Linked DNA regions of Homo sapiens. The protein of the gene in region 3 purifies or fractionates together with the protein of the main gene of each other region. This does not show direct contact. Each region holds a gene or a part of one and is shown on either strand. Other genes may lie near its edges.

Evidence for each region. The genes of interacting proteins can lie anywhere in the genome.
Region 1: the proteins of RAB30 (region 3) and D2HGDH purify together in Homo sapiens (affinity purification with mass spectrometry; 2 studies listed by BioGRID and IntAct, with this or other methods). This does not show direct contact.
Region 2: the proteins of RAB30 (region 3) and DPH1 purify together in Homo sapiens (affinity purification with mass spectrometry; 2 studies listed by BioGRID and IntAct, with this or other methods). This does not show direct contact.
Region 4: the proteins of RAB30 (region 3) and TRAPPC9 purify together in Homo sapiens (affinity purification with mass spectrometry; 2 studies listed by BioGRID and IntAct, with this or other methods). This does not show direct contact.

The regions. Positions count from the first base shown.
Region 1 is NC_000002.12:241,741,130-241,744,629, reverse strand, and holds part of D2HGDH (D-2-hydroxyglutarate dehydrogenase, mitochondrial isoform 1 precursor), read right to left. Parts: intron 2,196-3,500; coding exon 2,056-2,195; intron 1,009-2,055; coding exon 815-1,008; intron 1-814.
Region 2 is NC_000017.11:2,028,911-2,032,952, forward strand, and holds the start of DPH1 (2-(3-amino-3-carboxypropyl)histidine synthase subunit 1), read left to right. Parts: upstream 1-1,242; 5' UTR 1,243-1,244; coding exon of another isoform or gene 1,245-1,259; coding exon 1,260-1,320; intron 1,321-4,042. UniProt on the Homo sapiens protein: Catalyzes the first step of diphthamide biosynthesis, a post-translational modification of histidine which occurs in elongation factor 2.
Region 3 is NC_000011.10:83,065,398-83,068,897, reverse strand, and holds part of RAB30 (ras-related protein Rab-30), read left to right. Parts: intron 1-3,500. UniProt on the Homo sapiens protein: The small GTPases Rab are key regulators of intracellular membrane trafficking, from the formation of transport vesicles to their fusion with membranes.
Region 4 is NC_000008.11:140,433,745-140,437,244, forward strand, and holds part of TRAPPC9 (trafficking protein particle complex subunit 9), read right to left. Parts: intron 1,497-3,500; coding exon 1,368-1,496; intron 1-1,367. UniProt on the Homo sapiens protein: Functions as an activator of NF-kappa-B through increased phosphorylation of the IKK complex. May function in neuronal cells differentiation. May play a role in vesicular transport from endoplasmic reticulum to Golgi.

The DNA.
Region 1 (3,500 bases), on a different chromosome or scaffold from region 3:
TTCTGCAGCAGCCTGAGGTCATGCCAAGAGGCTGAAGGATGGACTTTCCTCCTGTACGAGTGACACCCTCCACACACAGCAGCTCACTGCCCAGGGGGCACGCCCGGGGTCGGGGGCAGTGGGGAGGCTCCCTGGGAGTAGGGCGTGAGCCCAGCCCAGGACCCAGCCACCTCTGGACCCACCAGCCATAAGGCATCAAAGCTCCCGAGCTGTGGGCCTCTCCGAGTCCTGTGTGCTGGTACTGTGAGTCGGAGGCCTACACAGCTCATGAGTGCAAAAAAGTAATTTACAATAAAGATAATCAGTGGCTGGCCAGAAAAAAAAGCTACTGAAGCGTCATAATTTACTGGATGGCACCAAAGCATGGTTTTGTGTTTGCTTCGTCCACTTGGGTAAACAGGACAGAGAGCTCTGCCTGTGACACTCGGCTGGTGAGGGTGCGGGTAAACAGAGGGGCCCTGGAGGAACAGTGGGCAGCAGAAGGTCACGAAGCTGACCCTGGATGAGCCTTCCTTCACACCCGGCTCCCAGAAGCCCACCACTGCCGGGGCGGTGTCCCCTGTAACTGCATCCTCTCTGTGTGGCCCCGAGGCAGTGGACACAAAATCACCCTCTCGTGGGAGGACAGGGCAGGGCCAGGCCTCCCTCAGGATGGGGGTGTATGTAGCCCACACATCCTTGAGGGGCCCAGGGCCAGGAACCAAGACCTCCCACCCCGAGGGGCCCCATGCACCTGTGCCACCACGTGGGCCCATGAGAGCCGTGAGAGGACACCCCGTGGCGACCTCTGCACCAAGCAGCTGCCCCAGCTCACCACTTCCAGGCCCAGGACAGTCCCATGCAGTGAGCCATATCGAAGAAACCGCAGGCCTCCAGCGTTGGTTGCCACGTTTCCCCCGATGTGGCAGCTGCCCTTGGCTCCTAAGTCCAGCGGCATGATGAAGTCCCGTTCCTCCACATACCGGCTCAGCTCCTCCAGGACGCAGCCCGCCTGGCAAACCAGAATTCCTGCAGAGAGTGACCAGGCTGCCGCAGCACTTGGCTTCCAGTGGGCCCCCGGGCTGGTGAGTCCCAACCCCCATCTTGCACAGGCAAGCCACCCAGAAGGAACATCAGCCTCAGCGCCAGGGCTGAGGAGAAGAGGCACCCCCACATCGCTGGCCCAAGGACGAAAACATCTGGGCCTCACAGGACCTTTATAATTATGGTGACACAAAAAAAAAATGAGTAACATGAAAAGAGAGGAAAAAACTTCCCACCCCCACACACACTCGTGGAAAGGAGTAGAAGAGGGAAGATTCTCAGCTGGGGCTGATCCTGCCCTGGGCATGTGGGACAATGCCTGGGTTGGGGGTGCCATGGGCACCTTGTAGGCGGAGGCCAAGGATGCTGCTCAACACCCAACAGTGCAGGCGCCCGACCACAGAGTGACCGGGGCCTGGAGCCCGGCCTTGCGGGGAGAGGCCCAGCTCCAGAGCAGGACCCTGGCGCCCTGGGTCAGGATCCCCTCATGCCTGCCACGCCCTGGCACCCTGGGTCAGGATCCCCTCACGCCTGCCACGCCCTGGCGCCCTGGGTCAGGATCCCCTCACGCCTGCCACGCCCTGGCGCCCTGGGTCAGGATCCCCTCATGCCTGCCACGCTCTGGCGCCCTGGGTCAGGATCCCCTCACGCCTGCCACGCCCTGGCGCCCTGGGTCAGGATCCCCTCACGCCTGCCACGCCCTGGCGCCCTGGGTCAGGATCCCCTCATGCCTGCCACGCCCTGGCACCCTGGGTCAGGATCCCCTCACACATGCCACTCTGCACCTCACACACCTCTAGAGCGGGATGGAGTCGGAAGGGACCAGAATGACAAGCCCTCACCAGCACGCATGTCTGGAGGGGCCGGGCGAGGTGGGGCTAGGCGGCCAGGCTACAGACGCTGGTTCTTTCCCCAGCGCCGGCCCTAACTCATTCACCCACCCAAGCACCCCACAGTTGCAGACGCTGGCAAGGAAGAACTCCACCAGCACCAGGAGGGACTCCTGGGCCCCGACGGGTGGCACAGGCTTACCAGACACGCTGTGGAAGCTGAGGACCCGGTTCATGCGGGCAGTGGAGAGGATGATCTCGTCAAAGACGGGGACGCTGCCACCCACCATGCCTGTGTTGCCCCCCTGTGGGTTCACGGCCAGGTTCCTCTCGTGGCAGTGCCTGGGATGAGGACAGGAGGGACGTTGGGGCTCTGTCCCCACCCCTACGCCACCATCCCCAAGGACACGCCGCAGGACCAGTGCCTGACTCCAAATCCTGATTACCCTGCCCTGCCTGCAGCCTCAGCGGGGGCTCCTCCCCAGCCCACGCATGTGAGGGATTCTGAGGAAGGACAGAGGCCAATCCGAAAGCTGTGCACAGGGAGACGGAAGTGGAGGCCCCGATTCTGACGTCCTACAAGGCTTCCCTCAAAGGACAGAACGTCCTACACGCCCGGCTCCCATCCTTCCCGTTCACACCATGCTCACAGAGGGTCCAGCTCAGGGTTCCTCGACCGCACTGCCCCCACTGCCTTCCACCCTCTGCCTGCATCTCCCCACCCTCGGCCCATTATCCCCCAGACGTGTGCCCAAGGATACCTCCCTCCCAACCAGCCTGCACCTTTGCAAAGCCCCAAAGCCTAGAGCACACCCAGTGGCTAGGGGTTTGGAGAAACCAAAGTTCCGTGCTCTGGGAAAAGGAATCTGCCCATGTACATGAAATAAACCCTGGAGACAGCAAGCCCCACACATGAAATAAACCCTGGAGACAGCAAGCCCCACACATGAAATAAACCCTGGAGGCAGCAAGCCCCACACATGAAATAAACCCTGGAGACAGCAAGTCCCACACATGAAATAAACCCTGGAGACAGCAAGCCCCATACATGAAATAAACCCTGGAGACAGCAAGCCCCATACATGAAATAAACCCTGGAGACAGCAAGCCCCACACATGAAATAAACCCTGGAGACAGCAAGCCCCATACATGAAATAAACCCTGGAGACAGCAAGTCCCACACATGAAATAAACCCTGGAGACAGCAAGCCCCACACATGAAATAAACCCTGGAGGCAGCAAGCCCCACACATGAAATAAACCCTGGAGACAGCAAGCCCCACACATGAAATAAACCCTGGAGACAGCAAGTCCCAGGGATGGAGTTTAACAGAGTAAGTGCACGTTGCCCCAAAGCACCTGCTGAGGATGATCTAAAGCACTGTCCACAGTCATGGACACCCGGAGACCAGTGCCACCCTGTAGTGTGTTCATGGGGGAGGAGCTTTGCTGTTACAGACAGTGCCAAGAAATGGGCATGGGCATTGCCAAATGGGGGGAAATGATTACACACCACAGATGCATTGAGATAGCACCGAAAAACCACAGAACAAACACTGAGACACACAAACCAAGATGTCATCGGCTGGCTTCGCACCGCGTCACCCCAGCTGCCCACAGGCTCCATGAGGAAATGACCCACAGGC
Region 2 (4,042 bases), on a different chromosome or scaffold from region 3:
AGGGCCTCTGGGGGAGCCCGAGGACACAGAGCTGACTTAAAGGGCCAGCTGTGATCACAGCACCACCGCAGAGAGAGGAGGAGGATGCCAGGGGGCTGGGTAGACCGTCAGACCTGGAAGACCATTGTTCCACGGGACAGACTGCTGAGGGCCAGTCCTGCAGGTACTTTGCTCTTCCACAGGTCAAAGCCGTCTCACTGGCTGTCTTCTCTTTGGGGTCTCTGGGGCTCTGGCCAGTGATCAGGAGAAAGACCAGCCCTGAGGGGCAGGGCAAAGGTTGGCCAGGGTCCAGAAGGGTTAGACATCACAGTCCTCCACTGCCCACCTTCCCAGGAAAGCACCCTCAGGCTGTGGGCCTTCCCCAGAGGGGCAGTTTCTACAGGGTCTACGCAGTGGATTCTAAAGGTGATAAAGGCTGGGTGCAGTGGCTCGCGCCTGTAATCCCAGCACTTTGGGAGGCCAAAGTGGGAGGATTGCTTGAGTCCAGAGGTTCAAGACCAGCCTGAGCAAAATAGTGAAACCTTATCTCTACTAAAAAAAAAAAAAAAAAAAAAAAAAAAAATTAGCTGAACGTACGCCTGTGGTCCCGGGTACTCAGGGGGCTGAGGCAGGAAGATGAATTGAGCCCAGAAGGTTGAGACTGCTGTGAACCATGATCGCACCACTGCACTCCAGCCTGGGCGACAGACCAAGACCCTGTCTCAAAAAAAATAATTTAAAAAGCTGATAAGGGCGATCCACAAACCTGCACCAAGACTCTCAACTTGGAGCTGGGCTGGTGGTCCCTGAGTTCTGTCCTGCCGGACAGTAGAGTCCCCCTAGGTAGGGAACGTGGCCCCACACGGCGGCCGGGTGACCGACCACTGCTTACCAGGAGGGGAGACTGGCAGGGGGGGCTCAAGGAACATCTGGTGGGTGTCCCCTTCACAAGACTCGGCCTGCAGAGTTCGTGCAGGGAGTTCGCACATAGGAGAGCACCGGTCCGGGAGTGCCAGGCTCGTGCCCGGCCGGGGAGAGGAGTGGGAGACTAAGTCGCAGGGCAAGGGCAACTGCATAGTCGGGGACCTCTAGGGAATCCTGAGTCCCGGCATTCTGGGCTGGGGTGGAGCCCACTACAGCCCCGCCCCTATCTCCTCCTTTATGGCCCCGCCCAGCGGGTATCCCCCGCCCCCGCTGGCCGATCGGCGATCGATCGCAATGTCTGCGCTCTCCGCGTTCTTCCAGCGCTGTCTTTTTAGTACCACATGCGCAGGCAGGTGATGGCGGCGCTGGTCGTATCCGGGGCAGCGGAGCAGGGCGGCCGAGACGGCCCTGGCAGAGGTGGGTGCTGGAACGCTGCGCCCTCCAGACCTCGCATCTCGGGGCGGGGCCCCCAAGTTAGGGACAGGACCAACCCCCTTTAACGGCGGCGGCGCCTTTCTCCGCTAGATCCCGCTGTTAGTCGCCTTGGGCCGCTGTCACCAGCTCGGGGTCGCTGTCAGCCGGAGCCCAGGGGTACCAGTCTTTTGCAGCTTTAGGGCACGACCGAGAGCAGCCCTTAATCCTCCAATCGGAAACTACAGCCTTGTCTTGGCGGGTAGACGGATAAAATGGACTCGACGGGGAGGGAAAGGGCCAGGCCAGATGCAGCGGGCATTTTACGAGTGCGCCCTCAGGGAATGCTTTCAGGGAAGAGGCAAAAGGTTTCATTCGCCAGGCATTAACTGAGCGCCCACCGAATGCCAGGCCTGCGCTGGGTGCAGGTACTAGAATCAGAGATCTCAGTCTACTGGGGGAATGTTAATGTAAACATATCATAGCCACGTGATAAAGGAGGAGGTGCCTACTGGTCCCTGGGACACATTGAAGGGCTAATGTTAGCAGTTCCTTACACGCCAGCGACCACTAGGGACCTGTCAGAGGAGGATCTGTAATGGGCCTAGGAAGCCTAGGCTGATTGTCCAAGGCTTTTGAAACAACTGGCCAAAAACCATAGCAGTGGTAACGTTCAAATCTGATCTCAGGGCCCCAGCCTCCGCTGGACCATCCCCACCGCCGCCCACACAGTGGGTGAAGCCTCATGTCTGGGCGGGTCCCTCCTATCATAGTGTGGGGCCCTAGCAGAAGTTGTGGCACATAGCACAGTCTCAATACATATTCGTTGAATAAGTTAATTTCTTGCCTTTTCATATCCTCAGACTCTGTGGCTCCTGAAGAGATAACGGGGTTGAACTAAGCTTAATTGTCGGGGCAGGGCATAGTGGCTTACACCTTTAGTCTGAGCACTTTGGGAGGCTAAGGAGGATTGTGTGAGCCCAGGAATTCCACACCAGTCTGGGAAACATAGGGGGACCCTGTATGCACAAAAAAATAAAAAATAGCCGTGCGTGGCCGGGCACGGTGGCTTACACCTGTAATCCCAGCACTCTGGGAGGCTGAGGCGGGCGGATTACCTGAGGTCAGGAGTTTGAGACCAGCCTGGCCAACATGGTGGAAACCCTGTCTCTACTAAAAATACAAAAATTAGCCGCGTGTGGTAGCACACGCCTGTAATCCCAGCTACTCGGGAGGCTGAGGCAGGAGAATTGCTTGAGTCCGAGAGGCTGAGGTTGCAGTGAGCCGAGATTGCACCACTGCACTCCAGCCTGGCCAACAGACAGAGTGAGACTCTGTCTCAAAAAAAAAAAAAAAAAAAAAAATTAGCCCTGCGTCTTGGCACATGCCTGTGGTCCTAGCTACTGGGGAGGCTGAGGTGGGAGGATTATCGTTTGAGCCCAGGACGTCGAGGCCGCAGTGGACCATGATTGCACCCCTGCACTCCAGCCTGGGTGATGGAGTGAGACCCTGCCTTAAAAAATAATAAGATGAATTGTTTATTCAGCTTATTATTTTTTATCCTACTTAGGAGTAGGATGAGACCAGAGTAAGAGTTGCAGTTTGCTAAGGGCTACGGTTTCCCCTTTACTCCAGGAGTTGTAATTATGTGTATACCTGTCTTTTCCCCCACTAGACTGCTGGTCTCTAAGGGACAAGGTCACTTTTCTGTCCTTACTGGTACGTCCACCACCCTGACTCAAGTGTTCTTTCCATCCTTCCTGGTTTAAGAGTAAGGAGGAGCAATGGGACAGCTAAGTCAGTTAAATGTATGATGTTTATTTCCCTTTTAAATGAGGAGAGGTAAGCGTGAAAGAACGAACAGTGTGGCCACAGTCAGTGGGGTTCTGAGTCAGGAGGGCAGTCTTTTAAGTTAGTATTCATGTTTAACGGTTTGCTTATAGACCTCATATCTAGAAGCTCAAAACTTCAAGGTGTCCTCAGGAGGTGGGAGAGGGGGGACATTCTCCCAGGCTGGCTGGGCTGGCTAGACTGACTCTTAGGTTTTCCGCAGGGCTGTTCTCTATCAGGGAGCAGTATATGGACTCAGACTCATTCTTTGCCCCTTAGCCCCTGGTGTCACCTCTGTTCTCCTGAGGAAGAAGGTGAGCCATATTCTATTCATGGGCTCAAGTCTTCGATTCCCAGTGATTTCACAACATGGAAATTATACCGGTTACCTTCTGGCTTAATGAATTGTCTCTACCTTCAGGATGAATTCAGTGAGAACGAAAGCTGGGCCAACCCCCTTGGTGTCTGGATCTGGCCCTTAAACTTGGTGGAGTTAACAGCTTAGCTGGGTCTTGTTACCAAACTCAACTTGGGTCTTCCCATCCACACAAAGCAAAAGCCAAACACTGACATGGAGATTTGCAGGGAGAGAACAAGCATTTATTGTAAGGCACCAAGCAGGGAGACTGGGCAGCTAAAGCTTAAGACCTAAACTTCCTGATGGCTTACAAGCAAAGGGTTTTTATTTTATTTATTTATTTATTTTTGAGATGGTGTCTCGCTCTGTTGCCCAGGCTGGAGTGCAGCGGCGTGATCTCGGCTCACTGCAAGCTCCGCCTCCCGGGTTCACCCCATTCTCCTGCCTTAGCTGGGACTACAGGTGCCTGCCACCAGGCCCGGCTAATTTTTTGTATTTTTAGTAGAGAGTAGTATTTCCCCGTGTTAGCCAGGATGGTCT
Region 3 (3,500 bases):
TGATGAATGCCATTTCCAAAAGGGTTGGGTAGGAGTGCCTGACATGGTACTTTCCCCTTGTCTAGGGTTATCAGGAAAGGTTTCCTATAGGAAGTGACACTTCAAGAGACTTGGAGGGTAAACGGAAGTAGTAATTCAGGATGGCAGTGGGAGATGCTTATAGTGGGACAAAGGTTTCTGGCAGAGGGAACTTCATGTTCAAAGTTCAAAGGGAAGAGTGGTGAACCTGAGGATTTGAAAGGAAGTTAGAGACAGAGCAAGAGGAGAAAGACTAGAATGAAGAATGAGGCTGGAGAGGTGGGCAGAGGCTAGAGAGTAGGCAGTTCTTTGAGCTACAGGTGTATTTTGGTCTTTATCCTAAGGCTAATGAGAACCTAGCCTGGCTTTAAAAAACTAGATGAATGGCATATGTAGGATGATATTAAAATATTATCCTGGCTGTTAAGTAGAGGAGATTGAAGGAAAGACTTGGTCAGAGTGAATGTGTAGAGACCAAGTAGCAAATAATTTTTGTCGTCTGTATGAGGGATGATGGTGCTTAGATCTAGGGTGGTGACAGAGGGTTTAGAGAGACACTAAGTTTTTTGTTTTTTTTTTTTGAGACAGAGTTTTGCTCTTGTTGCCCTTGCTGGAGTACAATGGCGCAATCTCGGCTCATTGCAACCTCCGCCTCCCAGGTTCAAGCAGTTCTCCTGCCTCAGCCTCCCTATTGTCTGGGATTACAGGTGCCCGCCACCATGCTCAGCTAACGTTTGTATTTTTTTTTTTTTTTTTGAGACAGAGTCTCACTCTGTCGCCCAGGCTGAAGTGCAGTGGCATGATCACAGCTCACTGCAGCCTCCATCTCTGGATTCAAGCGATTCTCCTGCCTCAGCCTCCCAAGTAGTTGAGATTACAGGCACCCACCACTCCCAGCTAATTTTTATATATTTAGTAGAGATAGGGTCTCACCATGCTGGCCAGGCTGATCTCTCAAACTCCTGACCTCAAATGGTCCACCCGCCTCAGCCTCCCAAAGTGCTGGGACTACAGGCGTGAGCCACCGCACCTGGCAACTTTTGTATTTTTAGTAGAGATGGGGTTTCACCATGTTGGCCAGGCTGGTCTCGAACTCCTGACCTCAGGTGATCCACCTGCCTCTGCCTCCCAAAGTTCTGGGATTACAAGCATGAGCCACCATGCCCGGCCGACACTAACTTTGAAAATTGTAATTGATAAGATTTGTTGATTGATTGGATGGGGGGATAGGGAGAAAAGGGAGTCATGAAATGACTTGAGTTTTTTTCTTGAGCAACTGGGGATGACGTTTTCAGAGAAAGAGAACACTGAATGGGAACCAGGTCTTTTTGTTTTCCGAAGGGAGGACCTTTGGACATGCTGAGTTTGAGGTTCCTGGAAGACATCTAAGATCTTTCACTCTTGCTGTCCATGTGTAGGATGTGGCATGATGGAGTAGAAGAGAGCTCTGGACGAGGCTTTCTCACACTGGACACTGCTTATTTATTAGCTGTATGATGTTGGACATATCACATTTTTTTTTCTGAGCTTTAGTTTCCTCATCTGTACAATGTATTTATTCCAATAGTTTATACTTACCCCAGCATGGAAAACAACAGTATACTCAGTTTACTTATTTGTTATAACAGTTTTCCATGCACCATGCTAGGAAAACAACATTGAATAAGATACTGTTTACTTCGGAGGAATTCACTCAGGTGAGGGAGACAAACGTAAATAATCACGTACAAAGAGGTACTTTGGCAATACTAGGCTAGGGGGTAGGGGTGATGGGTGCGGGAGGCATCCACACCTTTGATCCTAGACATGAAGGCAAGCAAAAGCGCTCCAGACTGTGTTTCCAGGCACCCAACAGAATGCCTCACACAAATTAGGGACTCTAAATGTTGGTAGAGTGAGTGAATTAACCTAAGTCACTAAGGGCCTATTCAAAAGCAGGAAATATCAACACATTGGAAGAGGACTATTAGTAATAATACAGATGCCAAATGTAAAATGCTTTTAAGAGACCCATTAAAATGTATTCTAGGCCAGGCACAGTGGCTCACGCCTGTAATCCCCACACTTTGGGTGGCTGAGGTGGGTGGATCACCTGAGGTCAGGAGTTCAAGGCCAGCGTGGCCAACATGGTGAAACCCCGTCTCTACTAAAAATACAAAATTAGGCGGGGGTGTAGTGGTGCATGCCTGTAGTCCCAGCTACTCAGGAGGCTGAGGCAGGAGAATCACTTCAACCCAGGAGGCGGAAGCTGCTGTGAGCCGAGATTGTGCCATGGCACTCTACTCTGGGCCACAGAGTGAGACTCTGTCTCAAAACAAAAAAAAGTATTCTTGACACTTTCAGCTTTTGAGATATTTTGTGATCACTTTTAGGGAAATTCAGAAATATTTCAGATCTGGTTTCTTTTTGGGCTGAACTTCCTTTATTCAAGTCAGTTTCTCAAAAAAATCATTCTAATTGCACAGAGTTCCCTGAATCAATGGGTCTCAGAGTTTTGAATTATATAGATTAGTAAAATTACAAAAAATAAAATTGAATGTACTGTGAACAATAGTTATTCTTCTGTAGTAAATTGAAAATGCCTCCTCACTTTTATCTCATAGAAAATATATTTAGCTTTATGAAAAATTCTCTACATTGGGTTTTCTCATTTTGTTGCAGAAATGAAACATCAGAATAGTGTAATAATTTAGGGAACCATTGCCCTATTTTCTTGGCTGTGGTGGAAATGTGATCCATCTCCAAATAAGGGCATTTCCAAGTATGGAGGAATTTAATATGGACCACAGTTAATTTATTTTTAGTTTTTTCCTTATAGGAAGCCAACTTTTGAGAACTACGTAGGCCTCCTCAAGATTAGCCTAACGTAGCAGTTCTTAATTCATGCCTGAAAGGTCCTCAGGAAGACCATGAACCTTTGAGATCATGTTAAATTGTATACGTATACATATTTATGTGCTGGAGTTCATACGTACATGCACATATTTTTGTATCATACGCGTGTGTCCTTGAGCAAATTACTTAATCTCTTTGAGCCTCTGTTTCTTTGTAAGGTTGTTGGGAGGTTCACATGATGAGATCATGTGTTTTAAATGTCTGACACTATGCTTGGTATAGCTGGTGCTCATGGTAGCTGTTTTTAACATTATTTATCCTTTTAAACATTTTATTTATTGGGTGGTGCTTGTTTAGTATCCACAGTGACAAAATGAGGAAAAAGATAATTTAGTGTAACTACACAACCTGATTCAATGGGAAGTACACAACATCACTGATGTAGAATTTTTGCCAGAAATGCTTAACTTAAATCTAACCATGGGGCTGGGCATAGTAGCTCACATCTGGAATCCTAGCACTTTGGGAGGCCACGGCAGGAAGATTACTTGAGCCCAGGAGTTCAAGACCACCCTGGGCAACATAGGGAGACTCTGTCTTCTCCTTTCCTTTCCTTTCCATTCCTTTCCTTTTCTCTCTTTCCTTTC
Region 4 (3,500 bases), on a different chromosome or scaffold from region 3:
CACAAAAAAGATAAGCCTGAGGCAGAAGAATAGGATCTAGAGGCAAAGAACTTAAGGTTGTTTCACACAGACTTCCTACAACTACATTGAAAGGAAAACCCTAACTTTCCATGACTAAGTAACAAAAGGACCAGAGGCTGCTCCCTTTGACCTTTTCTGCATGGCAGGTGGGAAACTGGCTGTCCGGAACCACTCAGACTGATTGCTGGTGGAGTCTTAGTTTGCAGAGAAGTATAACTTTGTCTACTTTTCATTTGCATAGAAGCATAACTTTGTAACTTCACCTTAGCCTCTGAGTGGCTGCTTTCCGCAACCAATCAGACTAACTGCAGGCTACCACTTCATTTACAAGAGGTGAGCATGAAGTGGCCAATGGGAAACTTCTAGTGGGTATTTAGACCCAAGAAGATTCTGTATCCGTGCCCTTGAGCCCGCTGCTCGGCCCACTCCCACACTGTGGAGTGTACTTTCGTTTTCAATAAATCCCTGCTTTCATTATTTTGTTGCTTCCTTCTTTGTGACCTATGCAACATGATGACTAAATCCTGAGCCATTAAAGGCAGGTTCATTCATCAAGGACCAAAACGTTCATGTTCATTCAGCATTCGTGGGTCTGCTCTACCCAAGAAGTTTTCTCACTCTTCATTGGTTCTACCAAGCATAAGCAAATCAAACAACTCATTGAGAGAATGTCATCAGCCAATAAAATAAGAAACTGCTCCCAGGCCCTGAATCAGCTTATTAAAATTGACCTCTGGGACTAGCTTCTCCTAATACATAAAATTATAAAAAAGACTTAGACACAGAACCTCAAGTCTGTTCTACCAGGAAATTTTACACAAGTATTCCAGAAATCAACCAATCATTCTAACCCATTAGTGGTATTCAGTAAGATTGAAAGTATTCAATAAAATCAGAACAAAATGTCTCATACAAGATTTCTGGGCAGGGCATGGTGGCTCACGCCTGTAATCCCAGCACTTTGGGAGGCCGAGGCGGGTGGATCACGAGGTCAAGCATTCGAGACCAGCCTGGCCAACATAGTGAAACCCCGCCTCTATTAAAAATACAAAAAATTAGCCATGTGTGGTGGCGGGCGCCTGTAATCCCAACTAGTCAGGAGGCTGAGGGAGGAGAATTGCTTGAACCTGGGAGGTGGAGGCTGTGGTGAGCCGAGATTGCGCCACTGCACTCCAGCCCGGGCAACAGTGCAAGACTCTGTCTCAAAAAAAAAAAAAAATTACTGACTCAACAGATTTTACAGTTTATTTAAATATTAGTCCTAACTCAAAGGAAAAAGTAACAAATGAGTCTGCTTTATTTAAAGACTGCAAGTGAGCAGAGGCCGGAAAAAGGGCAGAGCTCACCTGGCCGGTGTCTATTGGCTGCTTCAGCAGGAAGGGTGCTGCCCTGGAACCTCCGAGCTCCACTCTTCCCACCAGTTCCACCAGGATAGTGATAGATGACAGAAGCTGAACACAATCCTTCCAGGGCAGCTGGGCATTAAGAAAACAAAAAACAAAAACCAGAAAACAAAAAACAAAAACCAGCATCATTAGTCAAGTCAGTGACCCTTCATTAGCTCAAACTGCAGTAACTAACAATGATTTAAACAGGTGGATTATTTGGAAATGCCAATTTTTCTCCCAAAACAAAGATCAAACCTAAAGATCACTAGTTTTTTGCAAATGGGAACTTGCCACCTGTCTTTCCCATGCCCATGTCCAGGCAGGCAATGCAGAACACTCTCACCACACTCAAGGTTTCCCTGCAGGGCTGACTGCACACGTAAAACAGGCCAGCCTCTGCGTTCATCCATTCACGTGGCCGGCATTCCTGCACAAACTGTGTGGCAGACTGCGCCAGGTTCTGGAGCTACAGAGATGTATAACAGAAAGTGCCCTGGATTGAAAATATTTCACAGTAATAGCACCAAAGCAAGACCAGAATGCCTTTCCAGACCATGCACCCCATAGGCATCTGCTCCTTTTGAGGTTGTAGTCCTCCCTCTTCCTCAAAAACAGCCATATTAACTCGCTACACAGTCCGTTCTTCTCTCATGACGTAACAACCTAATAATCTCCAGCTATGCCACATGCCTTAGAAGGTGTGCCACAGTATTCATCTCTATCATCTTTATCCATTAACTCAGTGCTCCTTAAACTTTTGGTCTAAAAACTCCTTGATGCTCTTAAAAATGACTTAGGATCACAAAGAGCTTTTTTTGTGATGTGGGTTACACCTGTAGATATTTACCATATTGGAAAATAAAACTGAGAAAAGGATTTAAGTATTTATGTATTAATTCCTCTTAAAATAGGCCAGACGCAGTGGCTCATGCCAGTAATCCCAGCACTTTGGGAAGCCAAGGTGGGTGGATCACTTGAGGTCAGGAGTTCAAGACCAGCCTGGCCAACATGGTGAAACCCTGACTCTACTAAAAATACAAAAATTGGCCAGGCATGATAAAACACACCTGTAGCCCCAGCTACTCGGGAGGCTGAGGCAAGAGAATCGCTTGAACCTGGGAAATGGAAGTTTCAGTGAGCTGAAATCACGCCATTGCACTCCAGCCTGGGCGACAGAGTGAGACTGACTCAAAAAAATAAAAATAAAAAATAAAATAATAAGCTTGTCATGTGTTAACAGTTTTATGAAAAATAATTGTTTTCCAAAACAAAAATAAAGTACTGGAGGAATGGCATTATTTGACATGTTCACACATTTCTTTAATATCAGAGTTAATACAAGTCAGCTGGATCTTCTATCAGCTTCTACATTCAGTCTGCTGTGATGTCAGGCCTAAGTAGCTTGTGGACAACTCCACTGTCCACTTCTGAGAGGCTGAGCATGGAAGAGGCCCACGGCACACAGCACCGTCCTTCTCTGTGTGCCCTTTAGGAGCCCTCCTCATCCAGTCCAGCGCCGCATGGGGAAGGCATATGGGCAGTACCAGTCTTTCTGGAGAAGCACCTGCTGCACATGCCCTAGTCTCAGAGCCCACTGGGAGATGCACAGATTCTCTAATTGATACAATAAGGAGTACTTAGGGAGACAATGCTCTTTCAAGAAAACCAAGTAAAACTATGTCTTTCTCAGCCTGCATAATCCTTTATCTGATTCTCTTTTCTTTTCCATCCCTAATTCTTACTCCCTTTCTTTCCCCACTTCTATTTCCCTAGCCTCTTTAAAAAACTAAATTTAAGTCCATTTTAAGTTTTATTTTGGTTTTTTCTTAAGAGACAAAGTCTCACTCTTGCTCAGGATGGAGTGCAGTGGTGCGATCGTGGCTCACTGCAGCCTTGACCTCCTGAGCCCAAGCGATCCTCCTGCCTCACCCTCACAAGTAGCTGGGACTACAGGCACAGACCACCAAGCCCAGCTAATGTCTTTTTATTTTATTTTATTTTATTTTATTTTGGTAGAAGTGAGGTCTCCCTATGTTGCTCAGGCTGGTCTCCACCCAGTTAATGTTTTTTAATTTTGTTTTGTAGAAGTGA